Regions from separate parts of the Homo sapiens genome. Here regions 2 and 3 are each linked to region 1. Evidence: fine-mapped QTL for protein levels in blood plasma. Region 1 holds a variant in brackets. A gene starts in each other region. All regions are shown on their forward strands.

Region 1 (10,510 bases):
GGCAGGCTGGTATCTGTTTGATCTGATACTCCAGAAAAATCGTAATTTTACATTGTTTTTTTCCTGATTTCTAAACACATGAAACCAGATTCTTCTGGAGAAACATAGAGTGCCTTAATTTTGCCTAGTTAGGGGCTGTTGGGGGTGGTTTTTCTAAGCACCCTTCTGTGTCTAGCCAACCAGTAGAACCTGATTTTTGGGAGGTGAATTAGCCAGGGTTCTCTAGAGGGACAAAACTAATAGGATAGATGTATTTATAAAGGGGAGTTTATTAAGGAGTATTGACTCACACGGTCATGGAACTATGTGAGGTCCCACATAGTCCATCTGCAGGTTGAGGAGCAGGAAAGCCAGTCCGAGTCCCACAGCTGAAGAACTTGGAGTCTGATGTTCGAGGGCAGGAAGCATCCAGCACAGGAGAAAGATGTAGGCTGGAAGGCTAAGGAAGTCTAGTCTATTCACATTCTTCTGCCTGCTTTTTATTCTGGCTACAATGGCAGCAGATTAGATGGTGCCCACCCAGATTAAGGGTGGGTCTGCCTTCCCCAGCCCACTGACTCAAATGTTAATCTCCTTTGGCAACACCCTCACAGACACGCCCAGGATCAATACTTTGCATCCTTCAATCCAATCAAGTTGACACTCCGTATTAGCCATCACAGGGGCATGCTAAGCAAGAATTGTGTCTATGGCTGTAATCACAAAGTTACGATTATTGGAGTAAGCTCCACAAACCAGAGTCCCTTGTCCAGGGCCTCCAGAGATCCACCAGACACTTGAGTATCTCGAAAAGCCAGATGGGAGAAGCACGTTCACCACGGCAAACCTGCGCAGCCAAGAAAATCAAGTTTCTTTGTTTTATGCTAAACTTTTATCAACTGACTGTGGTAGTCGTGGCAATCTCATGCCATTCAGAACCTCTGATTGGCAACAGTATCTTTGTTCATTTGATAACAAATAACTCAAATTTTAAATTAAAGTTAGTCGACAACATCTTTCAAAATCTTGGAATCGTGTCGGGGGAAACAAAATACAAGAGATATGATTTGATGTGAAAGAATTTAGGACCTCTTGGCTTTGATTAAATTAGGGTGTGCTTCTGTTGTTTCACTGGGATTGTGAAATGTTGGGATGAGGAGATATGAAAAATCTATAGCTGAATATTCTGTTGATGGTTTTAAACCATAGAAATAAATATTCAGGAAGTCTCTATTGAGTAGCTCTATAGGGTAATGCTAGCTGCTAGAGCAAATAAACTCACGTCTTAACCATCTTGGCCCAGAAGTGATGTATGTTATTTTTGCTCACATTTCTTTGCCAATAACTAGTAAAATGATCCCATCTATATGCTGTGTGTGTTTGTGTGTGTGTAAAATGCAATCCCTCTCTGGACAGTAATTTACAGCAATAACTATATGGCAGAAGGAGCAAACTTCTTGTGGGGCAGCCAGCTATCCCTGATATGAGGAAAGAGAAAGAAGGGTCAGCATTAAGTGGCAGCTCAGGTGGCACACATTAAGAATCCAAGCTCTTAGAGAAATGGGAGTCCTTCATGGGAGAGGGTTTCTGGCAGCCAGGACACATGGAGCCCCTCTCGGAGGCACTATGCCACCCTCTGGGGGCAACAGGGTGTCAAGCACTCTAAGTCTAAGAACAGAAAGTTTGGGTTCTAAGGTCCAGATGAGGGTGAGGTTTGTGCACTAAAGATTAAGGAGATGAAGATCAGGGCAGAGTAAATAGGTGTCACCAGAAGGTCAATACAGTGATTAGCAACTGTAGTTGGTGTGATAAAGCAGAGAGGCTCGCAGTAGCCCTTGGAAGGGCCTGAGTAGAGGGACATAGGATGAAGAGCACTACCAGTTTGTTGGTTAGAATAATCTGGTCAGCCGGGCATGGTGGCTTATGCCTGTAATCCCAGCACTTTGACAGGCTGAGGCGGGTGGATCACGAGGTCAGGAATTCAAGACCAGCCTGGCCAAGATGGTGAAACCACGTCTCTACTAAAAATACAAAAATTAGCCGGGCGTGGTGGCGGGTGCCTGTAATCCCAGCTACTCGGGAGGCTGAGGCAGAGAATTGCTTGAACCTGGGAGGTGGAGGTTGCAGTGAGCCGAGATTGCACTGCTTCACTCCAGCCTGGTAACAGAGCGAGACTCTGTCTCAAAAACAAACAAACAAACAAAAAACAAAACACACCGTGGTTTCACCATTTACAGTGACATCTTGAGCAAATGACTTAAACTCTCTGAGTTTCAATTTCTTTATTTAAAAAAGAGGATTGTTAATACCCCACCCCACAGGGTGGTGGTAAGAATTAAATTTGGTAACATCTATAAGACCTGCTGTTCATTACAGTTGATTCTTAAGGCAGCATCCGGTGATGCCTTTGAAACATACATCGGCAAAGTCTTAATCAGATGAAAGCCAAAACCCCTACACCTGTGTAAGGCGCCACATTATCTGGCTGCCCCTGTGTAGGTATTTTGCTGTTCCCTCTACTTGCAACCCTCTTTTCTCAGAAATCTGCATGGTAGCCTCCTTCATCTCTGTTAACAGAAAAACCAAATTCTGTAAAATATTTTCAAGAAGTTTATCCTGAGGCAATATGAGTTACTGTAGCTTAGAGAAAACACAAACCCAAGAAGCCTTGAGTGAGTGGCCCTGAGGCAGTTGGGCCATAGTCTGGTTTTATACATTTTAGGGAGACAGGCATTACAGGCAAGGATATCTGGAAATCAGTACATGGAAGGTAACTGGTAGTTCTGTCCAAAAAATGTGAGACATCTCAAAGTGGGGGAGGGTGCGGTGTTAGGATATATGTATTGGTGGTTTTTTTTTTTGTTTTTTTTTGAGATGGAGTCTCGCTCTGTCACCCAGGCTGGAGTGCAATGGCGTGATCTCTGCCCACTGAGCCTCTGCCTCCTGGGTTCAAGTGATTCTCCTGCCTCAGCCTCCTGAGTAGCTGGGATTACAGGAGCATGCCACCACGCCCGGCTAATTTTTGTATTTTTAGTAGAGATGGGATTTCACCATGTTGGCCAGGATGGTCTCGATCTCCTGACCTCGTGATCCACCTGCCTTGGCCTCCCAAAGTGCTGGGAATACAGGCGTGAGCCATCATGCCTGGACTATGTGTTGGTTTCCATGCATGTTTCCTGGCGCATAGCCCCATAGCCCTTGCTACAGTCTTGCTAGAATGCTGGGCTTTTTAGACTTCAGGGACAGGCCCTAAGAAACAGTCTCTCTCCTGCCGTCCTTTCACCTGCCCCAAGGCAAGGTTTTTATGTTTTCTGGCCTGACTGTGGGCCTTACAACCCTCCCATGAGGCCAGGCATAGTGGTTCATGCCTGTAATCCCAGCACTTTGGGAGGCCGAGGTGGGTGGATCACCTGAAGTCAGGAGTTCGAGACCAGCCTGACCAACATGGTGAAACCCCGTCTCTACTAAAAATAGAAAAATTAGCCGGGTGTGATGGTGGGCGCCTGTAATCCCAGCTACTCGGGAGGCTGAGGCAGGAAGAATTGCTTGAACCCGGGAGGCAGAGGTTGCAGTGAATCAAGATCATGCTACTGCACTCCAACCTGGGCGACAGAGCGAGACTCTGTCTCAAAAAAAAAAAAAAAAAAAAACCTTCCCATGAGAGGTTCCTACCCTATGCCCTGGGGGAAGAAATGCTGACGTCAAGGAAGCTTCTATAAAAACCCAAGAGGACAGGGTTGGGTGAACTTTCTGATAGCTTAATAGGAGGAGGTTCCT[G/A]TAGGGCGGCACAACCAGGGAGGGCGTGGAAGCTCTGCATCCCTTCTCCCATACCTTGCTCTACACATCTCTTCATCTGTATCCTCTGCAGCATCCTTGATGATAAACCAGTAAATGTAAGTAGGGTGTTTCCCTGAGTTCTGTGAGCCGCTCCAGCAAATTAATTGAACCCACGGAGAGGGGAACCCCAATGGAAGCTGGTTGGTCAGAAAGAAGTTCTGGAGGCCTGGACTTGTGACTGGTGGAGGGGGGATGTCTTGGACACTAAGCCCTCAATCTGTAGGATCTGACACTATTTCCAGGTAGATAGTGTTGGAACTGAATTAGAGGACACCAAGCTGGTGTCGCTGCTTGGTGTTGGGGTGGGACCCCCACACATATGGTCACATAAGTCATCTTCTGTGTTGATTGTTGTGGTGTGAGAGCAGAGGAAAGATGGCTACAGAGAGTTTTCCCTACACAGGGACTTGGGGGGTAGAGGGTTAGGGGAGGGCTGAGGGGCCTTACAAGTCTTAAGTGCGTTTTAGGGATTCTTTAGCTAACAGTAGCTGAGAGAGTCAAGTTATTGTCTAGTGACTTGAAGTCAGTAGGAAGGAATGCCTGAGTAAGATAAGGAGGTTGTGGGGGCCTAGGTCCTTGGAGCCTCATAGATAGCAGCCCTCTGGGTGAATAGATAGTGATTGTCTCTTCTCAGACCTTTGGGTGTCTGACTCTCAGTTAGAATCTCTCCTAGATCTGGGAAAGGCCTAGCAAGGGAAGAGACATTAATATCGATTCTCTGGAGATGCACGTTTCCCCCACCAAAGATGGCTTTGCAGTCCAAAGGCTGTCTGGCAGCCTTTTCCAAATATGTCAAAGAAATGTATTTTGGGGCAAAATATTTTAATTTCCTTCAGAGTCTGCTGTCTGTCATGTGATACTATACCAGAGTCAGGTTGGAGAGTAAGCCACATTTTACTGGGTTAATTAAAAAACCCATTTAATGAGACTGTATTGTTTCTAGGGTATGACTTAATCTTTGCCTTTTATGGCCTTAGGTATTGTGTATAGTTTGGTATCTTATTGTCATAAAGGGTCTGTTTGGTCAGTCTTATAATCTCTATTTTACCTTAATGCTGGTCACTTGTACCTAAACCCCAAAAGGGAGGGGTATGATGAGGGTGTAACCTCCTTTCTGTCATGGCTGGGAATTCAGTTTTTCAGGTTTCTCTGGGGTGCCCATGGCCAAAAAGGAGTCCATTCAGTTGGTTAGTGGGGGGCTTAGGATTTTATTTTTGGTTTACACCTCCTTCCAACCCTTGCTCAAATGTCTTCTTCTCAGTGAGGCTTTCTCTGATCATCTGATTTAAATCTCCACCTCACCCACTCCAAGCTGTCCCTATTTCTCTTCCCTACTCTAATTGTCTGCATATCAGTTATCTCCTTGCAAAGCACCACGGATTTATGTTGTTTGACTCTTTATTTATCCTCACTATAAGGTGAGTGCTGGAGGGGTTAGGGATTTCTGGCTGGCTTCTCTACTGCTGTGTCTGCAGTCTGGTTCACAGTAGGCAATCAGCATTTGCTGAAAGAATGAACCTATAGCTTGGAACCAACCCAAATGTCCAACAATGATAGACTGGATTAGGAAAATGTGCACATATACACCATGGAATACTATGCAGCCATGAAAAATGATGAGTTCACGTCCTTTGTAGGGACATGGATGAAGCTGGAAACTATCATTCTCAGCAAACTATGGCAAGGACAAAAAGCCAAACACCACATGTTCTCACTCATAGGTGGGAATTGAACAGTGAGAACACATGGACACAGGAAGGGGAACATCACACACCGGGACTGTTGTGGGGTGGGGGGAACGGGGAGGGATAGCATTAGGAGATATACCTAATGCTAAATGATGAGTTAATGGGTGCAGCACACCAACATGGCACATGTATACATATGTAACAAACCTGCACGTTGTGCACATGTACCCTAAAACTTAAAGTATAATAATAATTAAAAAAAAAAAAAAGAATGAACCTATCGCATGAGTATTGGTGTAAGTTTTCTTACAGGCCCCGGGGCCACCACAAAGTAGAAGAACTCAACCTTCCCTATTCATTTCCTCACCTCCAACTCCCTTAGACTACCAGGACTTAGATCCTTTTGGGTATATATATACATATATATGTTTTATATATATACATATATACATGTTTTGCTTGTTTGTTTGTTTTTTGAGACAAAGTCTCGCTGTGTCACCCAGGATGGAGTACAGTGGCATGATCTCTGCTCACTGCAATCTCCGCCTCCAGGTTCAAGTGATTCTCCTGCCTCAGCCTCCTGAGTAGCTGGGACTACAGGTGCATGCCTCCACGCCTGGCTAATTTTTTGTATTTTTAGTAGAGACGGGGGTTTCACCATGTTAGCCAGATGGTCTTGATCTCCTGACCTCGTGATCTGCCCGCCTCGGCCTCCCAAAGTGCTGGGATTACAGGCATGAGCCACCGCGCCCAGCCTAAATGTTTTATATATATATATACACACACACATATACTCTATATATATATACACACACACATATATACACATATATATGTGTATATATATATATATATATAGAGAGAGAGAGAGAGAGAGAGAGAGAGAGTATATGTGTATATATTTTAACAAAAAAAGCCTGGGAGAACCATTGAATTTGAAACCACCAAATCTCAACAAGCCTTGAAATCTAACACTCAGTTTAAGGAAACACAGAGCAGAGAGGAGAACATTAAACAACACCCTGAGGAAGCCGTGAGCCAGGCTCAGAACATAAGCCACTCCACAGGAGAAATGACTTCATTTTTTCAACAAATATATGCCGTGGAAAAGAAGAAGTAAGGGAGCGAGGAACTCTTCTAGATAAGAGAGAATTGAAAATGGCACATCATCCAGTCATCCAAACAAAATGTCCTGTCCTTGTTTGGATCCCCTTTTGAGCAGGTTAGTGTAAAAGACATTATTGAGAGAATTGGTAAACATTTAAAGGTGGGTTGGATATTGGGTGATATTGGCATTGTGATCATATTGAATTATTATTTATATTCATATATTCTCTGGCAGAACCTGGTGCGTGTGTGTGTGTGTGTGTGTGTGTGTGTGTGTCTGTGTGTGTGTGTCTCACAGTGTAGAGAATCTGAGGGTCTACGTTCTCAATTCTCCCAGGGGTGGTACGATTCTGCCAGGGGTGGTACGTAGGTAATTCTCGATGCCATGGGAGTTAGTTGATGCGTTGCATACAATGGAGGTCTTAGGACATTAAGGCTTAATTTTTTGTTGGATCCGCAGTTGGGAAGAGCTGGTAGCAGGAAACTGATACAAAGTCTGGCGTTTGCTTTAAATTACTCCAAGAAAAATCGAAGCAGTGTAGTAAAGATTAGGAGGTGAGACAGTTCCTCTTTCTGAGGAGATGGCGGGCCCGTTTTCTTCTTTGTCTGGCTCTCTGTAGCATAGGGGTGTGGTGTAGTGTAGGGATGTGGAGGAAAGAGTGGGTAGCTGTGTTGCTGGGGAGGGGTGAAGTGTTTTTTCCACTCTCTATATAGGCCCTTCCTGCGCTCTCCTCTGCTTAATGCTGATTTACCAAGCGGAGTGCAAATTGTGTGGTGAGCATGTGGGAGATGCCTCCTGGGGCTGGGGTGTGTAGTGGGGAGTGGGCATTATACAGAAAGGGAATTCATGGGGCACGAAAGGCCTACTTTTTGCCAGGCACCTGTCAAATAGGAAGGCAGATATTTCTATGAATACAAGTCTGTCTGTCTGTGCATGGGGTGCAAGGGTGAAGACAGTAGCAAATGGCTCATGATTTCCCTTTGCCATGGCTGTGTCAATCTGGAGTTCAGAGCTCTCCTAATCAGTTCCGAGTGGTTGGCTCTGGTCAGGGACCGCAGCCTGACCTCATGGTGGGGACACAACACCCCCCAACAAAGTTCTGTTCTCCAGACTCTTAGAAAACCTCTGGGGAAATGTACTCAGGGAAATGTTCTGAGGACTTCATTATCAGTGCTGCCTGGCTGGGAAAAGATGTAATCTCTGGTAAGAGACCCTTGGCAGGAGTGAAAGCCCTTTATCTTCAGGGCTTTGCTCTGGGCAGGATCTCCCCCTCCCCACCATGAGCCATGCAGGTGGGCCTGTCCTCAGGTAAACACTTGCCAACAGTCACAGCCTCTCAGGCACTGCGCGCCCCTCATGGCTTCCTTTCTTTCACTGTCTTCTCAGATTCACCAGCTACAAGTCGGTTTCTTGTTGCATATCATGCTTCTGACCTTTGCTGCGCTTTTGAGCAAAACGGTGACTTGTCAGAAATGTTTTGACAAATGATTAATGTTTTGACCCATGTTGGTTCCCGCTTGATAGAGCTCGGTGGGTAGGAGCTGGGGTGGTAGAGCCAGACAGCCTGGGCAGGCTCCTCTGGGGACTCTGTGAAGCACATGGTGATAACAGTGCTCGCCTTGGGCACTGTTGTTGCTGCAGGAATTAAATGAGCTTCACCAAATTACAGGACCTTTACTGCCTGTAAATTACTTAGCACATAGTAAAAGCTCATTAATTATTAGCTAAAATAAAGTGATAAAAATCTATCATTAAATTGTCAGCACAGCCCTGCAGAGGCAACCTTTTAAGTATTGTTATCCTTCGCAGATGAAGACACAAGGTTCACAGAAACTGACTAATTGGCCTAAGATAACTTACAGTACAAAAGCCAGGATTTCAATCTAGCTTTTTGAGACTAGAGCCTGAGTGAACTGTTTCTCCAAAGCCAAGGCTTCTCAAACTATTGGTGGTGAAGAACCAAATTTTTTTTCCCAATTCCTCTCACATCAGTAGTTACGTAAAATACAATAAAAATGGGGCCAGGTGCGGTGGCTCACGCCTGTAATCCCAGCACTTTGGGAGGCCGAGGCGGGTGGATCATGAGGTCAGGAGATCGAGACCATCCTGGCTAACACGGTGAAACCCCATCTCTACTAAAAACACAAAAACAAAATTAGCCAGGCATGGTGGCGGGCACCTGTAGTCCCAGCTACTGGGGAGGCTGAGGCGGGAGAATGGAGTGAACCCTGGAGGCAGAGCTTGCAGTGAGCCGAGATCTCACCACTGCACTCCAGCCTGGGCGACAGAGGGAGACTCTGTCTCCAAAAAAATAAATAAATAAATAAAAAATAAAAAATAAAATAAACAAATAAATAAAAAAGCATGGATTCCAGAATCATGAAATGAGAAAAAGGACATTTGAAATACAAGCCCCATTTTAAAAAGTATTGATCTAACAGGCATAAAATTACTCTTTAAAATTACTGTAAAAGTCACTTACACTCCATTTCTGTACTTTTCTCATCTTGCATCTTGAAAAGCTTTCTCAGCCTAGCACTTCTCTGCAGATCTCACTTTCAGTAGCACTGTTCTCAGCGACCTGTTTCTCACCACTTGCCTGAGAATTAATTACCTGGGGTGCTTATTAAATGCAGATTTCCAACTTCCCCCCAATATTCTCCCAACCTCCCAGACTACTTGAATCAGAATGATTGAGACAGAATTCAGGAACCCGCATTTTAACAAGTGATTTTAATAATTTGGGTGTGCTCTAAGTCTGAGAATCACTGTGCTCCTCAGTGTTGCCTCCTCTCTACAGATAACAGATAAGAGGGTAAATAGTGAAGTGAGTGCAGTGTTTTATTCCGGCCCCCCTTCTTGCCCCGTCTTCTTTTCTCAAAAAAAATTTTCAAAGGCTTCCTTTCTGTAGAAGCTCACTGACAGAACCGACTTTCCGGACTCAGTGCACTTCAACAAACAGGTATTGAGCTCAAACTGCAGGGGGCTGGGTAGGTGGAGAGCTGACCGCAAGATGCTCACAAGCAGTAGAGGGTGAGTATAGGTAGAGAAAGGGCAGGTCTAGGGCATTTCTGTGCATAAAGTGGGGCAGAAGAGAAGGAGCCAGCAACGAGACCAGTAAGGCATTACCGGTAAGGCAGAGAAAAGCCAGGAGAAGTATAGGTTTTGGAAGCTAGGTGAAGAATATGCATCAAGGAAGAGGAAGTTATGGACTGCTGATGAGCTGAATAAGATGAAGACTGAACATTGACCATTTGGTTAGCAATGTGGAGATCGTGGAGGTCCTTGTGACTCTGACAAGATCAGGTTCATGGAGATGGGGAGGCCTGGTTGGAGTGGGTTCAAGTGAGAGTGGGAAGATAGCTATTGCAAACAAGACTATGGACTGTCTTTCAAGGAGTTTTACTGTAAAGGAAAGAGAAATAAGGCATTTTAAAGAAGAGAAATGAGGTCAAGAGGTTTAGGGTCAGGGCAGGGAAGTGGAGTTTATTTAGAACTCATGCAATAAGTGGCTCAATATATGACTTCTCTAAAGTCATATATCTTTTAGTTAATTCCTTGAGTAAAACAGAAACAATTGTCTATCGTGACTTTTTTCTTCAAGCTCTTTAAAACTCTCCCCACTCCCAAACTATATCACTGTCTAAGAAGAAAGGAGTTTGAAAATCAGTCTTGTTACATAGCTTAATTTGAATACATCCAAAAAATGACATTGCATTATTTTCATATTTGCTGAATCTATTTTTTGGCTGGAGTATTTTAAAGTAGATTTTTAAAGTAGATTTCATCTCTTACTACTTCACATGCATAGGACTTTTTCTTTATATAACCACAATACTTTTATACACCTAACAAAATTAACAATAATTTCTTAATACCATATAATAACCAATCTATG
Region 2 (10,580 bases), not on the chromosome of region 1:
AAAAGAGAGAAATGAAAGACAAAAGAAATGATTGAAGAAATTAGACAAATTCAGGGAACTAGAGAACTTTAAGGATTTGGAGAGAAGAAAACTCATAAGGAAAGGTTTAGCAAAGAGAAGAAACAGGGGAAGACTCTTCTAGTCCAGACTCCTCATCCATTGATCCCAGGAAACAAACACACTACAATAATCAAATGCAAGTCTCTCTGAATCATCCACCCTCTAATATCTAACACTCTTTTCACCCTCAGTCCCCCTGATATCTATTCATCCCATTGTAGGCAATATAATTTATCCTGAGCATATTTTTTCTTTTTATCTCTGTGCCTTCCCTGAAAGTATCCATTTACCCAAAGAGAGGCCCCCTCCCACTCTTTCCCCATCAAAAAAAGAGGGCAGAGGGGTGCATTTACTTTTCCCAGATTCTAATTGATAGTGTCAACACATTCTTTAGGTTCCCTTGCACTGGAAATGCATGTCTATCTTATATGTTCTTATTCCCAAATCCTCACCACCATCCACCAACTTCCTGGGACGCACTTCCAACCTCCTACTCAGTTTCAGCTCATCCTTCTGGTTTTCCTCTCAGTCCTGGCAGTTTTCCTCTCCAGCCTCCATCTGCAGGAACTTTACTTCCACTGCCAATTAACTCAGCTCTCCTCTTCTTCCAGCATATCCTTTGTACTTACCCACTTTTTCTCTTATGCACAGTGATGAAGCCCTCTCTCACTTCTCACCCCACCATCCTACCCCTTTCATTCCACCATCATCCATCATCTCCAATCATCCATCTCTAACATCCCACTTGTTCCAGGTCAACTTGCTTGCCATGGTTCAAGGTTTCAATGGAGAAGCAAGAAGCAAGAGATCATTGTGAGAGAGGGGAGCTCCGGCATGGTGAGAGGGAGAGGGTAATGTTGACAAGGAGTCATTGGGAGACTGAGGTTTTGGAGGTTAGAGAATGAGAGTGATGGACAAAAGAATTGAAATGCAGGAGATGCTGAAGAGATGCTTGTGGAGGAAAACACCATGCATAGGATAGAAACTGAACATTTGGAGGAAGCAACAAAGATGGAGCTTGCTAAAAGGGACAAGTTGGAGAGAATGGAGTAATTATGGATACATGGAGAAGCAAAGAAGATGGAAATTAGATAAAGAAAAAAATGCAGAAAGGGACCAAGAGAAACGGAAGAAGGGTACCCAAGGCAAGGCAACAGGAAACAGTGAGAGATGAGCAAACCCAGGCAGCTCCCGCCATCCTGCCTCTTTTACTCCCCCATCATCTCCAATCATCCACCCGTATAATCCCACCTGGGATGGTGCAAATCAGTTGTTCCACAACTACACAGGGTTTGGAGCAGTCATGGTCATTTTAGGCACAGAGTCACCCACTTGCACAGAGCATCTTCCACCCTGCTTTCCTCACCCAGTATTCTCCGAAGTCGGTTTTTGTTCTTTGTGGCAAGCTCCTGAAAAGAATTATTGGTCTCTTTGGCCCTTCCACAGGCAAAGCTGAAGAAGTCGGTGCAGGGGGCCACACTTGTGTTCCCAGAGGCCAGGTAATGATCCCGGAGATCCAAACACACAGATGTCTCACAGGGGCCTGTGGGGAAAAGCTCAGAGCTGGGAAAGAAGAGGCAAAAAGACAAGGGCTCCCCCAAGGGGCTAGGCAAAGAACATCAGGTGAGTAACTAAGTGGGGAGCTGATGAAAAAGAAATGGTTAGGATGCAGGGAGGAAGAAGAACCATGGGGACCCCAAGGGTCAGGGTGGGCAGAAGCCCCAGGAGCAGGGACTGGGCCTGGGCCCCAGGGCTGGGGGAGGGCTGACTAGGTTAGGGGGTCTGGGATCTTGCTTACGAGGGCCACAGTTCTGGAAGTTGTAGAACAAAAGCACAGAAAAACAAAGGAGCAGGCCCAAAATCAGGATAGCTGTCAGCACCCGCCTGGCCACTGCCCATGGCCTGCTCCCTTCCACGGGCAGCCTCTCTTCTGGAGTGCTCTGTGGGAGGAACCAAGAGGTGAAAGATACAAGATGGGGGTTGAGAGACAGGGATGGGAAGAAGAGGAGAGAGAATGAATCTGTTGGTGCTACAGTCCCTTTATACAGAAATAATTATCCCAATTCTTCCTAAACCCAGCCCTACTTTAACTCCTGGGAGATGAGAAAACAAGGAATGTCAACTGTTTTGGGTGAGGATGAAGCAGACAGTTAGTAGATGAGTGTTTGTGGGATTTTAGAGCCGAGAGTGACAACATCAGTGTATTCCAGACCCAGGAGAGGAGGCCACTTACCTCTTGGCTCCAGAGAGTTCCCATTCCACCTGCCTGGCTGCGTTCCCTCGGCTCTTCCTCACTTTGGTCCCCACCTTCCTGAAGTGAGTGGAGGGAGAAGGAGGAGAGAGAAGCTGGTTCAGGAAATGGTGCATTGAAGAGAGTTTTATCAGGCCATTTTGATACCCTCGCTGCCTGCCCTGCCCCCACACACATATTTTTATCTCGGAGCAGTGTTCCCAGATGGGCTTCAGAACGAACCTGTCCCCTGAATGTGCCATTTCTCGATCCCTCTCCCATTACCTCCCTCTCTCCCCACCTTTCTACTCTGTAAGCCTTACATTCCCTCCCCTCCAGTGGGGGCAGGACTTTTGCACACAGCCACCCTCACCCCTCCCCGCTAAGCCTCTGACTCCAAAAGGGGACTTACCATCTGTCTATCTTCTGTGGCTCCAGAATCCTTCCTGGTTCCACTCTAGGAGCTGATTCGGAGGACTGGGGTCCAGGAAACACCCCCCGCCCCAGTTCCTTGATCCTGGAGAAGGGGCACTTCTGCTGCTCTTTCGCCTTGTCCCCAGACACACAGGACTGGCCTCTGGGTGGAGCCTGCTTATCAGTGGGGGGCACCCAGGCTTCTCCTCCCCCTTTATCTCAGCTTCTCAGGGGAGAAGAGGGAGGGAGTCTTCACTCCCCAAGCAATCTTGCCCTTGGTCTGCTCCTTTTGTCTTGCACTGTGACTCTGCCCATGAAGTTCCTTTATTTCTAAAATATTCTTCCTTCTCTCATTTCTTCTGTATTAAAAAAAATATGAGGCACAGTAAAATTTTAAAGAGTTTATTTAAGTAAGAAGCAATTCATGAATTGGGGAGCACCAGACCGACAAAGGTTTAGTGTTGCGATGACAAAATGTCAGAGGCAAGCATTTATTGGGAAGTTATAGAAGCAAAATGAAACATTATTTGCTTAGTTTGCAGTTACATAATTGCATTTTTTAGGTAACTTTTTGGAAAGTCCCTAGTCACATAATCATATGTTAGTTGGCTGCTTATCATTGGCTGGGGTTAAGTTTTATTTGTTGTAAGCATTTATCAGAAATTGACCCAAGTTAAGTTTAATTTATGTTTGTAGTTTTAGCAAGAATATGGCTATTTTTAAGGTCTTTGGCTTTGTTTGCCTGGGAATTTTTCAGGCCCAGTCTCCATTTTAATTTTGTTTTCACACCTCTCTGATTGGCTTTTCTGGGATTCATCAATTCCCAGGTCAAATGCCACCTTTCCCAGGAGGCCTCCCAGCTCCATGCCCATTCACACTGTTCCCAAGCATGCTTAATTGTTTCTCTCGGTGTTTCATAGCTCTGCTGGCTGCTGGCAAAGTCATGCATTCAAAAGATCACCCAGCTAGGAGACCCTAATCTGCTAATTATTAGCTCTGTGACAATAAACAAGCCACTTAAACTCTGAGGCAGGTAAGCAAGTTTTGTCATCTGGAAAATGAGGGTAATACTTGCCTATGCCTACCTCATAGGATCTCATGCCTTCTACAAAAGAATAAGGCTTTACTGAGCCCCTCTTTCTTTCATTCTGCTTTCTGTTACACTGATAGCTTGCCTCTTCATCTCCTTAGTGATTGAAAACTATGTCATAGCATGTACAGTGTCTGGTTTTCATTCCTGCCCACCCAAGATGCTTTCTAAATGTTAATAGAAATGAATTGCATTCCAAGCCAGAAATCCTCTTTCTCACATCATATTAAGCCCTTACCTGTGGTCTGAGAGAGGCAAGCACATTTCTGGGGGAAGGTGTTTCAACTCTGTCCTTGTTTCCTCATCCCAGGAAAAAAATAATGTAATTTATTAGGTTAGTCTTGCAAATGATCCCCTGGCGATATTTCCAGATTCCATCAGCACTGTGCTAGGGCCATGGTGCACTTGCCAGGATGAGGGTGGGTGTGGAGAAGTGGAGTAAAGCCATTGTGCCCCCTGGGGCCAGCTGGTCGGGTATCATGAAAGTCATAAAGAAAAGTCAGAACTTCATACATTAGAAAAGAAAGCATTGGGAAAAATAAGGCTTTTGAGGAAAGGTGTGGCAAGATACAATAATATCTAAGAAACGCCGGTGTGGTATTGGGGATCTGGACTGATTGGATAAAAGACAAGAAACAGAGTGGTTAGTTTGGTGTTGCAGGAGTGATGAAGGGAGGGCCCGGCCCAAGGGGATGGCAGAGGGGAGGGAAGTGCGTAGAAAGAAAAATTGTATGGAATAAAGTCATGGCAATGGATTGAATGGAGGAGGGGTTTATGATAGAGCCACAGAGGAGCTCCAAGTTGCATTTCTGCATGACTAGGGGAATAGTGATGCCAGCGAACAATGGAATTTTGATTAAGGGGGGAGTAGGAATCAGAGTGAGGGGAAAAAGCTGACTCAGGATTCTAGAGGTGTTTGGTCTGTGTGGGTACACCCTGATGGTGCCTCCTCTTCAAACTTCCCTTCCACAGAAAGTCCAATACTCTCCCCATGGGCTTTTAGCTTCCTTCACACATATTCCCTTCCTCACTCCTTTTCTATCAATCAAAGCCCCTGAGCTGATGTTTCCCTAGGAAGATGATAATGGAGACCACTTAGATTTGATAAGAGAAAGTTGAAGATGGAGTGTGCTCTGTGACATTTGCCTATGGACAGCCACCACAGCCTGGACTTAGGTTCTCTCCCTGTCAGAGAAGCTGAGCCAGCCACAGGGATAGGGCAGCACAGCTGCCAGGTCCACCATTCCTACTCAGCCTCCTCCTGAAGGCCAAGCAACCTCCATCCTGGGAGCTGTCTCAGGAGCAGGACTTCTTCTTATCACCCATATCCTACTCCATGGTGAGTCATCACCAGCACAGCCATACCCAGTCACGGGAGTGCAGCAGCCTTCACTCAGATCTAAGCCCCGAGAAGAGGTGTGTTAACAGCTGTGGCACATGGACCACATTTATCTTTTCGGATGCTGCCTCCTTCTTGCCCTCAATTGTCCTGTCTGTTTATTTTAATTCCAGGAGGTTTTGTTTCATGCCATAATAGTATCAAAATAAAATATTGGTAATAATAAAAATAACCACTTTTTACGGAGCACCTTCTTTGTGCTAGGAATGTGCTAAATGTTTTGCTTGTACATTTTCCTTCAGTCTTCACAGCAACTTTCTGAGGGAAATAACAGCTTTTATTTTCCCCATTTTATAGATGAGCGGTCAGAGAGATATGAAAGTACAGTGAACTTACTCAAAGTTACAAAATTAATAATTAGCAGAACCGAGAATTGAACCAAAGCCTTAACCATTGAGCCTCTCAGTCACTAAGTATCTGTTTTTTGGAAGTTTCTTCATAGTAAACATCTTCCTTCATCTAAACTCTTCTTTTTAAACTATGTTTCACTGCTTGGCCTTGTGAGGTGACAGTTTTGGGGACTAGTATTCTCAAACTCTCTAACATCCAGTTTCATCATCTGAAGATCATGGCCTTTGCCACAATGTTCTATCCATAATCAGCTGCCATCTACAGTGGATGTGGTATCAAAATCAAGGACAGGACATTAATCTGTCTATTGTGACACTCTCAAGTGTGCACATGACTGGCAATTTGCTTCTAAGATCACTCGATTGCAGTGATAGCCACTAAGAAGCTACCCCCTAAAGAACAATAAACCCAGTTCTGAGTGAACCGAAGTAAGCCTTGACATCACAAGCAATGTTGAGGACTTTGCCCAGAAGATGATGGAGAAACAGATCATGGGGGGCAGGTTTTGGGGTGCACTGATTGCTCTTTCAAAGGAAGCAATACTTGAGAATTGGGGAGCTCCTTTGGGAAAGAGTAGCTTGTAAGTTCAGTATACCACAAAGTGGCTTTTGAAATAATTTAAGTGATAAGTAGATGGACCTCTTTCAATATGTGTGTGTGTGTGTGTGTGTGTGTGTGTGTGTATATATATAAATATATATTTATATTATATATATTATATATATATTTATATTTATATTATATATATTATATATATATTTATATTATATATATATTATATATATTATATATGTAATACATATTATACATATAATATATATAATATATATATATATTTTTTTGAGACTGAGTCTCGCCCTGTCAGCAGGCTGGAGTGCAGTGGCGTGATCTTGGCTCACTGCAACCTCCGCCTCCTGGGTTCAAGCGGTTCTCCTGCCTCAGCCTCCCGAGTAGCTGGGACTGCAGGTGCACGCCACCATGTCCAGCTAATTTTTGTATTTTTAGTAGAGACGGGGTTTCACCATGTTTGCTAGGATGGTCTCGATCTCTTGGCCTTGGCCTCCCAAAGTGTTGGGATTACAGGCATGAGCCACTGCACCTGGTCCAATATTTTCATTTTTATATACATTTTTCTTTTATAGATATATGACTCTAAGAAGACTAAAATACATAGCCTCTGTATTTTTATTAAATCAACTAAAATATACTAAACAAATAATAGCTGTATTGGTACTTGAATATGTCAAAAACTTGAAGAAAATGCTCAGAAGTCTGGAGTTTTAATTATGTATGGGTAGAAACAGCTCAAAAGGAGGATCTTTGTCCTTTTTTATTTTCTTTTTGGTATTTTCTACATGCCACCACATTTTTCTTCCTAATCCAACAGGTTTTGAAGATAGTACTCTGAATACAGAGACTCTAATAAGTTGTGTCAATTCAACATATGTTTCCTCAAGAAAATTTACATAAGTTCTTGCTAAAACCAAGGTCTTAGTCAACTACTACCATAATAATGCTTTGTTACAAACCACCCAAAACTCAATGGTTAGAGGAACAAGCATTTATTCTTTTTTTTTTTTTTTTTTTTTTTTTGAGACAGAGTTTTGCTGTTGTTGCCCAGGCTGGAGTGCAATGGTGCAATCTCGGCTTACCACAACCTCCGCCTCCCAGGTTCAAGCGATTCTCCTGCCTCAGCCTCCCGAGTAGCTGGGATTACAGGCATGTGTCATCACACCTGGCTAATTTTGTATTTTTAGTAGAGACGGGGTTTCTCCATGTTGGTCAGGCTGGTCTCGAACTGCTGACCTCAGGTGATCCGCCCGCCTCGGCCTCCCAAAGTGTTGGGATTACAGGCATGAGCCACCGTGCCCAGCAAGCATTTATTCTTATGTTTAAATGTCTCACTTGGAACAATGAGAAACAAAAGAATGGGACAAGCTGTGTGGTCTCCCTCTTAGCAAATGTACCAGTTACTTATTACTCCATAATAAACAACCCCTTATTTGGTGGCTTAAAAAAAATTGGCTCTCCATTCTATGGATTGGCAAATTAGGAAGAGCTGAAGTATCCTCTGTGCTCATTTGCATCTTTGGTTTCACATAGCAGGCCATTTCAGGGCTACCTAGTCCAGGATGGTCTCACACACATGGTTCTTGGTTGGCTGGGGCTGTTGGCCAAGGTGCCTCAGATCTCCTCCATGAGGCCCCTCTAGCAGGCTAGCTTGGGCTAGTTCCCATGGCAACTAGATTCTAAGAGAGCAAGAGTAAATGCTGCAAGGATCTGGAGACCTAGGCTTGGAGTTATACAATATCACTTCTGCCATATTCTATTTGTCAATTCAAGTCCCAAGGCCAGCTGAGATTAAAATAAACTCCACCACTTGAGGGGAGGATTTGCAAATAATTTGCAGTCATGTTTAATATGCCACAGGAGAAAGACAGTTTTCCTTTGAAGCAACCTATCATGAACAGATCACTGAACCCGGGAGTTGGAAAACTTGGTTTTCAGTCCTACATCAGTTTTAAAGTAGCTGGGTAATTTTTACCTACTTTTTTTCACCTCAATAAAATCTAGCACTGAAAACCTATGTTTCTAGGTTTCTAGTCTGGTCTCTGTTTCTTTTAAGGGGGACTTTAAGGTCCCAAGTCTTCTAAAGTCTCTTAGGTTTAAGGTCAAAGCATTAGATCAATGTATGGCAACTGATTCTCTCCCCCTTAAAGATGACCATAGATGAAAGAAGGAACTATCTAAACCCACTAAGCCAGTCCTGAAAGTGCTGGCCAAGGAGATTAAGTAGAGGGTCATATAGCAGCTATTGGGACTCTTCCTTAGGAGATACTTGGTATTTTTCCATTGCCTTGGCATGATTTGTTGTTGTTGTTGTTTTGTTTTGTTTGTCCCTTCTTCTATTCTGCTGCCTAGAAGGAAGATGTTTCCTTCTAGGAAGATAAGGATGACAGGAATGAGGTTCACACTTGGGGGAACTGTTAACCTCTTGAGCTAGAAGGAACCCAGCATCTGGGTGCTGTGGACGTTGTGGAGAAAAGTGGCCATGTCGGCTCTAGACTGCATCTCTACAAACTTTTACATGTGAGAAAATTACTATTTTCTTTAGGCTACTGTAGTTTCTTTCTATTACTTAAGACTAACTTTAATCCTACTAATAGATAAATATTAATACCTAAGATAAATGAGGTTTGACCATGTCTACCTATTCAGTGTTGTTAGATACAGATGACCATGTTGCGAACTGCACAATTTTAAGGATTGACAATTACATGAACTAAAACGTGCATGGTTTTCTATAGGGTTGAGCCACACAACAACCTTGTACCTAACAACTAGTATGATGTGGAAAGAGGAAGTTGATCTCATACTAACGTGTTGTTCCTATACTTCTTGTTGGTTCACTCAGAGACCTCAATATTCTTGCTCAAGTTGTTCAACTTGTGTTTTTTCTCTTTTCTTTCTTTTATACACAGGGTCTCGCTCTGTCACCCAGGGTGGAGTGCAGTGGTGCAATCTTGACTCACTGCAGCCTCAACCTCCCAGCTGTATGACCTTGAATTGAACACCTCTTTTTGAGATGGGGTCTCACCCTGTGACTCAGGCTGCAGTGCAGTGGCATGATCACAGCTCACTGCATCCTCTCCCGGGCTCAAGCAATCCTTCACCTCAGCCCCACCAAGCAACTGAGACTACAGGTACACACCACCACACCCGGCTAAATTTTTGTTTACTTTGTAGAGATAAGGTCTCACTATGTTGCCCAGGCTGATCTTGAACTCCTTGGCTCAAGTGATCCACCTACCTCAGCTTCACAAAGTGCTGAGATTACAGGTATGAGCCCCTGCACCTGGCCACTTTTATAAGTCTATAACTGTTGGAATCCTCCCAAGAAAATAGAAACAGCTCTAGGTATTTCAGAGAAAACTTAATACATCTAACTAGATACATAGGTAATAGAAGAATTGAGAAGTTAAATGGGTGGGGGAGAGAAAATGAGGCAGTCCTAAAATTATCAACAGAAGAAAACTACCACAAATCTTTAGTTTAGAGGAACAAAGAGGAGAAGGGGTGTTACCAGAGTCTGGGAGTTGTAGCACGTGCAGAAGATGGACCATTCTGGACCTTCTCAGCAAGCTGGGATCTTAGAAGAAAGAACTATTTGGTGGGAGATGGAGCCACTGTGGACATATGCCTGCCCTTGGAGGTGCCCCCTGAGGCAGAGAGAGAAAACAAGAAACATCCTGGTTTCATCTCTGCTTCCACCCTCTTCCCCTTGGCTGAATCTTTGCAGAAGTCAGAAAGAAAAGAGCCTGGGGAAACAGTTCCTCGTGATACAGAGCAGAACAGAGGAAGCCAGGAAACTGACCTGCAAACAGGCAAATGACTGGCACAGAGTATTTGTAGGAGTATTTGATTTGTGCGTAAAGGCACTGGGAACACGCAGTACTGCTTCATAGCCCAAGTTACCACGGGTGGCTCAAAGCTGAGCAGAAAATGCTCTTTTATGCAGAACTCCTCAGTATCTTGAAAATTAGATGTTTTTATTATCTGGAAACAGCATCCTTGAAATAGACATTGCTATTCTTATGATAGTCTGCAACAGCAGTAATAAAGGTAAGCCTCCTTCAAATACCTCTGTAGATAACAGACATTAACTCAGAGAAATAAGAGCAAAAGAAAAATAACACAGTGGATGCTGCATAGTAACCACAGCTGACTGGATGATTTATTTCCTGTGAAAACCTACCCCTCAGGGAATTCCAAAAACACTTGAAGTGAACTTTTTGGGAGAGGCAAGAACAGGATATTTGAGGTGCTGATGTTCATATGACATCATGTGTATCCCCAGATGAATGGATCAGGCATCATTTGAATTCTATGAATATTTACTTCAAGAGTGTAGTCTTTATTAATAAGCAAGCTTGGTCTATGGTTTTTCTTTTTAAAATGTCATTTTTATAGCCTGGGCAACATAACGAGATCTCATCTCTATGAAAAATTTTAAAAATTAGTCCTAGCTACTCAAA
Region 3 (10,788 bases), not on the chromosome of region 1:
CAATATGATACCTACATCATAGGAACATTTGACGTAATAGAGGAGAGAGTGAGAGAAATTTAAATGTGGAATATTTTGAATGATGAGAGAAAAAATAGACAATGAAAAGAAACTGTAGACAATGAGTATAGACAACACTTTAGGGAAGTTTTGCTGTGAAGAGGACCAGAGAGATGGGACAGAAGCTGGAGAAGGATCAAAAATGTGAAATAAAGAGAGTTTTTTGCTATTGGGAATGTTTCACTGGAAAGGGAAATGTTGATGAGGCAGAATAGAGATGGGTGAAAGTGGAATAAAATCCTTAAGCAGGTGAGAAGAGATGGAAATTAGATATAAATAGAAGCATTTTACAATTTTAAATTTCTCAAGTACAAAATGTTCATCCTCTTTGATCGCTTCCACTTTTTCATTTTTTTCTACATTTTTTTGATTTCATTCTACTAGAAAGGGAGTCCTCAAGCTTCATCCAAGTCATGTCATGAAAGGCCATCAATTTTAAAAAGGGAAAGGTAGAAAGATCTGTTTGCCTTTTGTGATTATTTCCTTGGAAAAACTCAAAGATGTAGGCCTGTTCCTATGAGGAATCCAGTTCTACCAACAGTAAATTTATCTCCTTCCTTCCCAGAGTGGAGGTAGAAGCAAAGATTCCCACAGTTTGGGCCTTTGGCTAGCTATTAGTAGAGAGTGAGACTCTGGGGTTGGCAGAGAAGTTAGAGGAAAGAATCCAAGAGGAGAAAACACCAAAGAGGAAGATAGTTAGTTAGAGGGAGAAGAGACTCCTAGACTTGCAACTGAAACTTACCATATGGACTGAAAAGCAGATGACTGTAAAAGAAACATAAAGACATGTCTTATTGTCTCATTGGCCTCTGTGTGTTTTTGTGATTAACTTCTAAGAATTTTTTTTTCTTCTGATAATGGACCTACTTGCACACTTTGGTGATTGGTCCATAACAAAGCAGTTACAAAGATGAGAATTCCCTTCTGTATTCTTTTCTGCCAAGTGTAAGACTATTAAATCTGGAATTTTTCCTAATTTGAGTGATTAGAAAAAGAGAAAACTGGGTGCTGGGAATTCTAAAGAGGAGATAAAGTGGACTGCAGAAAAGAAGTAGTGGTTTTCGCAAGGAAATAGTAGGAGAGAGAAAGAAAGATGGGAGAGAGAAATCTATGTCTCAAAATTAGTGATGTCTAAGATATGTGAAGCAGAGGCTGACAGTCGGGGTGAAACTCTTAAAGTCATAGGTTTAGTAAGACATTGGGCCTTTGGATGGGAGATCAGCACAGGAAAAGATTCCTCTTTGTCTATCTGTTTTCTGTACAAAACAAAATGCATTTATATGTCTTTCATTGAAGTTGAAGATAGGCAGTTCCTGACAAGTTCCTGGTAAGCGACAACAAAAAAAAATAGGCTTAGTACCTGTTATTACTAACTTAAGATATGTAAATTGGACCTTTCACTGTATTAAGTGTATTGCTCCCTCCTTTTTTTTTACTTGTGTAAATATGAAAATATTTACAAGTGTTTCATGGCTCACTCCTGATCTTGGACTCCCATGTTCTATGTCCGCCATTGAGTCTTAAATTTATCACTTGCAAATAGCTCTAAAATAATGATTTTCAAGCACCTATTCTCTTAACTTGAAGATTACTGTGCTTGTTACTTTAATAAAGTTAAAGATCTACTGAAATATGAAGTCCTAGTAAAGGACACATACTTGGGGTAAAATGGTGATTGGTCAGTTATGTGACCTTAAATAAGTCATTTTAATTTTCAGACTCAGTTTTCTCATGTGTGAATAGGAGGTAATATCAGATAAGGTGTAAGGCCTTTCTCGACTCTCTTAATTTTATGTTATTGACAACCTGAGGTGCTTTTCTAAGGGTAGCAGCTACCTATATTTGAAGGTGAAGGGCCCAGAGAGTTTTGAGAGGACCCAAATTGAGAGAGGGCCTAAATAATTTTGAAGAATTGAGTCCCAGTTTTTGGTTCATATATTAAGTTGTCAATCCTTGGATATCCTTTAATAAAACAGCAATTCTGTGTTTTTTACAAAGAAATCAAGGGGAATGATGGAAGTCTGTATAATTGCCTTGGGAATGCACTGGAAAAAGCTGCATGGCTGCTAATAGGGAGCAGCTTTGTCATGGATGTGTTGGTTCACTTAGGACATTTCACAACTCAGCCTAGAAACCACCATTAGGCTGAGAAGGTCTGAATGGATTCTGACCCATTTTGTGCTTGTCATTTGGGAAAGCCATTGCAAAAGTCCTTCTCTGCTTTTTTTGTAATTGACTTCCTTTGTAGTTATATTTGAAAAGATTGAGATTTATTTAATATTCTGGAAATGGTTGGGAGGCACTATATTACTATGGGGTGACAATATTGCTGGAATAGAAATGTTGATGACTTTTGGATCTTGACCCAGAATGTTGAATCTTAAATATGAAAAGACTGGTTAGAGAGTCCATGACTAAAATTATAGGAGGAAAATTTTATTTAATGAAATATTAAATACAATACAAATATTGAAGCTCTGAGAAAAAATAACACTACATTAGTAGAAAAAGATATTTAATATAGCGTTTGTGATCATTATTTAGGGGAAAATTAGTTTTGGGGTCTATTTTAGACTGCATCATGTAATAATACCTTAAATAATATATTGCCATCAATATCTCTGAATAGGTTCAGTGCTTTCTTATTAAATGAAAAGTTTTTTTCAAATATGTATGCTTTTTCAAATGTTTGTGTGACAGTGAGAAATAGCACAGCTGTTACAGTAACTATTTGCTTAGAGATTGCCTATACAATTTTTTATCAGATAAATTATAGGTAGCAAGTTATAAGAATGTCAGCAGGGAATGAAATTTTCTTTATACAGTATCTTATCTCAGCCACGTAAAATCTCTTCATTGGACATGAACCTATCAATATGATACAATCTTTGCTTGTAGTGAAATTTGGGAATAAACAGATAATTGAATGCTTCCTCCACATTCTAGGAACACATACTCTCTTATCATTGATGTGTCACCCACTACAGATGTGATGAATTCATGCTGTCAAACACAGTAGTTTACTAATGTGAGAAAACTTAGCTTCATTTTGAGAAATTTTCAAGTGCTCTTTTCTAGTTGTATGAGAAAACCCAAAGGACTAAACCTATTGATTTTAGAAAATCATCCTCTGCATGAACAGATAAACTTCAAGAAAATAAATAATATAAAAAGGTTGGTTGTGGTGGCTAATGCCTGTAATCCCAGGCACTTTAGGGGACTGAGGTGGCAGATTGCTTGAGCCCAGGAGTTTAAGACCAGCTTGGGCAACACAGCGAGACCTCTGTCTCTATTTGAAAAAATACAAAAACAAAAATAATAAATAATATAAAAATTGATGAAATTTAAATTTATTTTTAGTAGTCCAAATATTTGGACTTAAACGGAAATTTAAATTCGATTTTATTATTATATTCACTATTACTTTCTGAGTATAACAAACAAAAACTCTTATAAATTATAGTTCTGTTAAAAAAATCTTGACTTTTTGCATATAAGGCATTACACAAATCTGGAGAAACATTTATAATACTAATCATAATCTGACATACAAAATTGCAGCAATGATCCCTCCTTTACAGACCCTCTTACATTGTATGACAATAGCACTATAAAAAAGTATCCAGTGTTAAGGTACACTTGAAGTCCTACTGTAGAATTTATCTATATTCCAGCAACAAAGGACTCCCTAGACCGGTTTCATTGTATTGAATATAAACATCAGATTTCACAAAGTGACCTCTGCTGTAGCTCAAAATAGCTGGCATTTACTTCCCTGTTATCATGTGTGGTATTAACAAGCATAACACAAGTATTGTTGACTGAAAATAAAATCTTGCATCTTTAGAGAAAATAGAAATTATGATGTGTTTTGAATAAACTGTACAAACTGTACATTTTAGGCTTCAAATTTTTAAAAATTTTTTAAAAAGAAGAAGCAAACAAAACTTCAATATTCCTAAAAGCAAAGATTGCCAAGTCATCTGTGGTCTTTACAACACACTGCCTATGGAGAAAAGCAAATTTGCAGAAGAGAGAAGGTCTTAAGGTATAAAAACTGCTTTAGCTATTTATGAACATGCTATTTTCCTAATGTACATTTGTTTTATTTTAGTTGAATTCCTTAACTAAATTGTCTCTAAGTTCTTCTTAACGCCAGTTTCAAAAACAACACTTATAAAATGATAGTAGTCCTACTGTTTTAAATATAAAAATAAGTGGGATGATGACCCAGGATACTTTCAAAAGGAAGACAAATGCACAAAGGTAGTGACAGTTATAATAATTATTTACTTTTTCAAAAAATTTTAGAAAACAAAAATCTATTATAGGCTTAAATTTGATAACATAAATACTGTGATAACTGGAACAATCACAACTCTGGGAAACTCAAAGACTTAAAAAAATTTACAAACTGTACATTTCAAATGTGTGAGATAGGTACAACAGTAGGTATGAATTTGAATAATAACATTTACAATGCAAACTTTAACAAAATATAGGAGTGAAAGTAAAGCTCTAAATAGCTGAAGAAGCCTAAAAGTTAAATTGCTTATTTTGCTAAGCTGTTCTTAATTTTTAAAAAATGTAGCCTTAATTGAACTCCTATCTGTTGAATATAAACAAAACAAGAAATTGATTTGACTTTTAAAACTGATAAATAGGAAGAATGGAAATGAGAACATCTGGTGAAAATAATGTTGACAGACAGCAGTTGGAATGCTGGAAAGAGACTCCTTTAAACTCAAAAGATAAAGAGGAGAATGAGGGAAAATATTAAGGTAGAAAAAAATTCTTAATAGGACTAGCCATTGGGCAAAGAGAAAAGCTAAAGGCATTTTGGAGTAACAATCTTTTCAAATACGTTCTCCCTTTTGTGTAGGAAATTTTTTTGTTAGTTTGGAATCTTACCTTTCTTCCATATTTCATAAGATGAGACAGATAACTTAAAACGAAGCAGTAAACAGTTTGCAACAATATCTTTAATTAAAAAGAAAACAATTTTCGTAAATTATTTGTAGTTTCACTCTAAGTGGTCACAATTTCATGGCCTATTAGAATATTTGCTGAAATAAATGCATTAAAGACTATTGAACCTATATGTAAACTCTAAAAGAAGAAATTCATTATCTTTTAAAAATATCTGAATTATCTTAATGAGTGCTATGACAATAATTGTTGTTCCAAGAAAACAATAACAATCTATTTATTGAAACTCATTTCTCTTAAATGTTCCTGCTTCTTTGCTGTAACAGTGTGTTATTGTTAAAAGGTTCTGACCTGCTCTTCAATTATCTGAATGCATCTACAGCCTAAAGCAAATATTTACCTTATGTCCACAATTAAAAAAAAAAAACCTAACAAACAGCTAAAACACAATTCACACAGGGCCTTACCGAAGAGAAGGAGGTATATTTTGCACTGAAAGACCCCAAGTGTGTCACCGAAGGGCTCCATGAAAGCATCCTGTCCCATGCATGCAGTGCCCTGTTCTCAGTGGTAACTTGGACCAGCAGCTGCTGGTTTATTTGCTAGGGAAATTAGCAGTGAGGTAACAGACCCTATCTTGCCTCTTGCTTCTGTGATTTGAATACAGAATGAATGTGTATACAAAGGACACAGGGAGTGGGAACACCTGTTATGTGCTTAGCAAGAATACAGGCTTATGGCTTTCAGAAGAGTTTCTTAGCAACTACCAGTAATTGTCTATATATTTCATAAATTATACTTAGTTATTAAAAAATCACATGAAGGAAAACATCCTTTTGCGTGACTTTACTGAAAAATGGCATGTTTTCATAATGAAAGAATATTGTGAGATTTCCTTAAAAACAAAAGCTGGTTTTCTATCATGCAGAACTATGCCATTATTATTTTAAAATTAAAAAAAATTATATGAAAATTGAAGTAGCTCATGTATCTGCTAAACAGTTATAAATCTTCATGAAGTCACTAACATGTAAAAATTCTACCAATGAATCAAAAGAGAGATCCAGAATATATTTAAAACGTATTTTTTCTATGCAGTGTTTCCTATTACAATGACTGATTTCATTTAATCTTTGAATTCATCTTATTTTTAAAAGCAAATCACAGGTGTGTTTCCAACTGGGACTGAGGCATGGACCATGCATAATTATAATGAAAAGTGCATGCCAGGAGATAGTATCTGAGGCCACATTTTCACAGCTGATGCATAGAGGAAGTGAACCAATGATCTAGAAAAGATCTTACCTCTACTGCAGTGTCCAGGTTACAGGTTTTCAACCTGGTCTCTCCATTGTCATGGCAGCAGATAGTCTAAGCATGTCCGCTTAATTTACTAAGTTATTAGTTAACCCCTATTTGCAAGAAGGCTCTGGTTCTAGCCTTGTTATATAAAATGTTAAGGATATATCCAAATCTGCATCAAATCATCAAATCAAGGAAAATTCCTTGCATGCATCAGTTTTAACAGTAAAGGCCCACTGAAGAAGTTCAATGATAAGAGGGGAAGGAAGACTATACCTCAAGCATAATTAAAGTAAAAAAGGAATGATAGTAACTTTGGAATCCAAGTTTGGAAACACTCTTTGCATTAGGGCTCTGAACTCTTCTAGAAGGACTTCTATAAGCAAAGAAAGTAAGTGACTATTGGGAAAACGAAGTCCTCTTCAGAGATCAGTCACTTTCAGATCCCTCCATGCTTCAGAAAAATGGCAAGAGCTCCTCATGCTTCCCCCACCTCCCTGCAAAATAATAACAATGCCACAACTTTCTCTGCACTGTCTCTAAATCTGGTACACACATCTATTGCAGCACTTATCTCCTTAATCTTTATTTTATTGGATGTTTATTTTCCCTCTGAGCTCTCGAATACAGAGAATAATCTTATTCATTCATGGATGTTGGGCACGTAGCATAATGCTTAACTGGTATTTTTGTTAAGTTGTTTCTCCAGAAAACAAAACTCTAAGTGCTCCTTGGCCCGTCTTACGATTCTCAGTTGATGCGTAAGAAATACAAATAAATTTTAATATTGGATTGCACAAAATACAATTTGGAAAGTAATATGGAAGTTCTACAGATATCACATAGGTTCCCCCAACATCTTTTAGATTGATATTAATCTCCAATTGCCGTTATCAAATTAGCTGTTTTCAGTGTTTTTCAATCTAGTGCTGGATTATAATGAAGTTTGTTGGGTCCCTGGCAAAAAGAGAAATAAAGACAATGTACTGTGTTTTTCCCTAGTGTTAAATATACTCAATATAAAGGAGTTTTTTATTCTGAGATTTTCTTTGTTGTATTTGAAAATATTCCCTGTTTCATGACATAAGGTGATAGTAGATGCTACATTAAAAAATAAATGCCATATGAATCTTACTTGTAATCTTTTTATTTCATGGCACATATTGAAATATAATACGGCACATCTAGGGAAAGGGCTACTGGGATAATCATGACAAAGCGCCCTCTAGTGGTAAACTGTAGATATAAACTCTTACCTGCTGGAGTAACTTCTGATTTCAACATGTTTACACAGGAAGTGAGAAAAAGAGTGCTCAAGCTTAACTTCAACAATTGTTAATTTTTACATGATTCTTAAAAATAGTTTGAAGGTTTTATAATTATAAGAATTTTCCTACCATCCATATCTCACATCACACCTGTAACCCACTGGGAAGTTCTGCTGTTATCATTCCAGTCAGGAAAAAAGGGCCTGTAGTGTTACTGTTTACCAATCTTAGTTATATTTGCATTTAAAATGAGAAGGCTGATTAACCTAAAACAATCTATATCCACGGTGATTAAACTGCAAGCAATGTAAGGAGCCACTGGGATAGAGTATGCGTGTGTGTGTCCACGTGCATTTACAATGGGATATGGACACATATACTCCTGTGCAGGAGGGTGTGTGTGTGTGTGTGTGTGTGTATGTGTGTGTATGTTTGTTGGGGGCAGGGATTTTTATTACCTCTCAAATCACACTACACAGTTTACAATCTAGTTTATTTAAATTGCAGACTGGTATTACTTCATACAGTAAATGTCTGCTGCATGCATTTCAAACATCCACATTTTTAATCACAAGTAGCTAGCACACGCATGTTTTGCAGTGGCAGAAACAATTAAGGAGAGGTGGTGAAATGCCAAGGTCAATGTAGATGCAGAACAGTGGGGAATAAGAACTGGGGAAAGAAATGTTTCTTATTGTTGTAATTAGTGGATTCTCTCCAGTTTACAGGGAGAGTTAGCTGCCAGAGGAGGCTATCACATATGCCTATGCCTGTGCTAGTGTTCACTTCTGTAAAGTCTACAAAGCTGCCTCGTGGAAGCCTTGATCTATCTTATATGGCTGCTAAATACTAAGCAGTAATGTCTTCTTCCTGGGCACCTCTTTAGGTCACTACTTTACCTTTGGCAAGTGTTCTGTTTTCTGTTATGGCCTGCTCAAGAAGTGTAGTCATATCATCTTGGAGGGGCTGCATCTCTCCACTGCTTTGGTATTTGTGGAGTGGTAAGAAATTTTATCTTTCTAATCAAACCAGGATCTCAGCTTTTATTTAAGCTTCCAGACATTCCTCCTGTTTTGGGCCATTAGTAATATGCCCTTATCCTACTTTACTACTAATCCTATTGTTCTGAATCAGATCAATTTACTTAACTCTTGGCTCTGCACTCCTTTACCAAGGAATTGGTATCCAGCCAACCTTCCCCAGGATTTGGTGGCAGACCATCTAAACTTTCCATTATTTTGCACTGGACTATCACTAACAACAGCTCTCAGGTAAATGTGAAAGTCCTGAATAAATCTTAAAAATAAATACCTTTTTGAAAATTGGAAAGGAAATAGCAGCATGTCCAACCTTTTAAAAAGTGTTTGTTAGGATGCCAAGTTTTTTGTTTTTTTGAGCGTAGACAGATAGAAATGAATAACGTAAGGTTCAATTATTTCATATAGTGTTAAGGTATGCTGAATTAGAAAATATAGTTTATTTAGACACCAGCGCTGATTTACTTTACAAGCTTTCAATATTATAGTTATAGCCTTAAAACATTTAGAAGACTGTATCCATTTTTATCCATTTCTCCAGTTTGTAGGAAATAAACTAAAATGTAGAGTTTTGGAGTAAAACAAAGTTTCAATACTTTCTTGCGTTTTCAGTGTCGAATAGATAGGGATAACACTCATTTTTCTGAATTTGGCCAATAGAAATACACATATTAGATAAAAAAAACTTTTTGGGGGGATCATCTTTAACTTTGTGTATTTGAGTATGTGAGGGAGAAAATTCCGGGGTTGAATCTGGGTTCTAGTCCTAGATCAAGCTCTCATGAAATATGTGGTCTCGAACCCTTATACAGATACGTTTTCTCATCTTTACAGCATGGATTTGACATGCTAGAGCTGGACTGCCTTTAAGAATCACTGAAGATTTTAAACAAACAAACATCCCCAAAGAAAACAACAATAATAACAGCACACACCTCAGGTGAATCTGAACAGTCAGGTTTGAGATCTACTGAACTCAGATCACCCCTAAGATATGCTTTTAAACCCAGTTGTGAACTCCTTGTGACCACAACCATAGATTATTAATCAAAGTGCTTATTTTAGTGTTGCCTTGAGCGCAACAATCAAGAAATGTTTATTGACTTGGGTTTTATTTTATAGGCTAATATGGCTGGCAGTTTTTGTTTCTTTTGATGCTTTCAGGGACTTCTAAATATTGCAGATTTTCACACACAAAGAACAGTCTGACAATTAAGATTAGAGAAGGTAAAGAATAAACTAAACTAGACTTGCCCTAAATGTGACCAGAATTTCTTGAAGGGGTTAGAAATAACAGAGTCAGAGAAGCATATAGGTAAACATATAATTTCAAAGGAATTGCTGAACGCAGTGATGATACAAGTATGCACAAGGTGGTTCTGTTGGAGTAGAGAACTGGGCAGAATCAAAACCAATAATACCTCATAATTGTATAGTGCTTTACAATTTATACATTTCATTCACCTACATCATCTCACTTATCCTTACAAAGCCCTATATAAAATATTAAAATATTACAACCTCATTTGTAAAAATTAATAAAACGAGGCTCTAAGGGGTGAGAAAATAGAATTTCAGAATCAGAAATAACCTCTGTTAGTGTCCCCCAAACTTCAGTCATTTGCAAATCACCTTTATTAGTTTTGCCATATCTGACTACCACCCATACTATTGTTTACCTAGTATTTTTTATTACGTTGACACACTTGAACTTTTTTTATTCTAAGAAATATTTTTGAAATTATGGGTCTGTGTCATACTTTTAGAAGTTAACATTATAATAAAATAAACTTAAAAAAATTGGTGCCATGCTTTAGAACTTTCTTCAGCACAATACATGAAAATCTTAACACATCTGATGACCGATTAATCCTTCAGTTTCTACTTGCACATCTGCAGTAATCTTAGGCAAGTTCCTTAATTTCGCCATACCTGCTTCGTCATCTTTAAAATGGGAACCCACAGGATTCTTGTGTGGATAAATGAAATCATATATTTAAAGCTATTAGCAGTTCCTGACAGGTACTCGGCTTTCGATAAGTGTTAGCTATCATTGTTAGCTTTAGGGCTGCTTTTTCTTCTTCTTCTCATATTCTCATAATTGTAAAGTCCTTTTAAAATTGTGTCCCCAAAGACACTTCTGTTCCTTTCCCCAATTTAACTAAACTGCCAAAAGTTGAAAAGAGGACTTT

Alleles and levels. Alleles are on the strand shown, and positions count from the first base shown. The strength of an association depends on the size of the effect and on how common the allele is.
With allele A in place of G in region 1, the plasma level of the protein whose gene starts at base 2,862 in region 2 is lower (moderate association).
For the plasma level of the protein whose gene starts at base 5,558 in region 3, A is the low allele of the variant in region 1 and G is the other (moderate association).

The links. PIP is the chance, under the fine-mapping model, that this variant and not a neighbour inherited with it causes the effect. Protein levels are from antibody-based Olink assays in UK Biobank. Linkage for the fine-mapping came from a reference panel and not from the study's own genotypes, which makes the PIPs less certain.
Region 2: KEL starts here. The variant in region 1 is fine-mapped to the plasma level of the KEL protein (UK Biobank, PIP above 0.99).
Region 3: HEPACAM2 starts here. The variant in region 1 is fine-mapped to the plasma level of the HEPACAM2 protein (UK Biobank, PIP above 0.99).

What each region holds. Positions count from the first base shown.
Region 1 is chr3:187,018,133-187,028,642 of GRCh38, forward strand. All of the region lies in intron 2 of ST6GAL1 (ST6 beta-galactoside alpha-2,6-sialyltransferase 1), which reads left to right. Among named protein-coding and RNA genes, the nearest start is that of ST6GAL1, 93 kb to the left of the region's middle. RefSeq lists a promoter at 3,270-3,847, a cis regulatory region at 3,754-3,847, enhancers at 3,850-4,119, 7,729-8,058 and a silencer at 6,086-6,175. The variant G/A (reference allele first, on the strand shown) is at 3,757.
Region 2 is chr7:142,959,502-142,970,081 of GRCh38, forward strand. KEL (Kell metallo-endopeptidase (Kell blood group)) reads right to left here and starts at 2,862. Exons shown (of 19, transcript NM_000420.3): 1 at 2,703-2,862; 2 at 2,294-2,371; 3 at 1,859-2,000; 4 at 1,427-1,603. The coding sequence starts at 2,705. RefSeq lists a silencer at 2,626-2,821 and a cis regulatory region at 4,944-5,345.
Region 3 is chr7:93,220,912-93,231,699 of GRCh38, forward strand. HEPACAM2 (HEPACAM family member 2) reads right to left here and starts at 5,558. Exons shown (of 10, transcript NM_001039372.4): 1 at 5,457-5,558. The coding sequence starts at 5,535.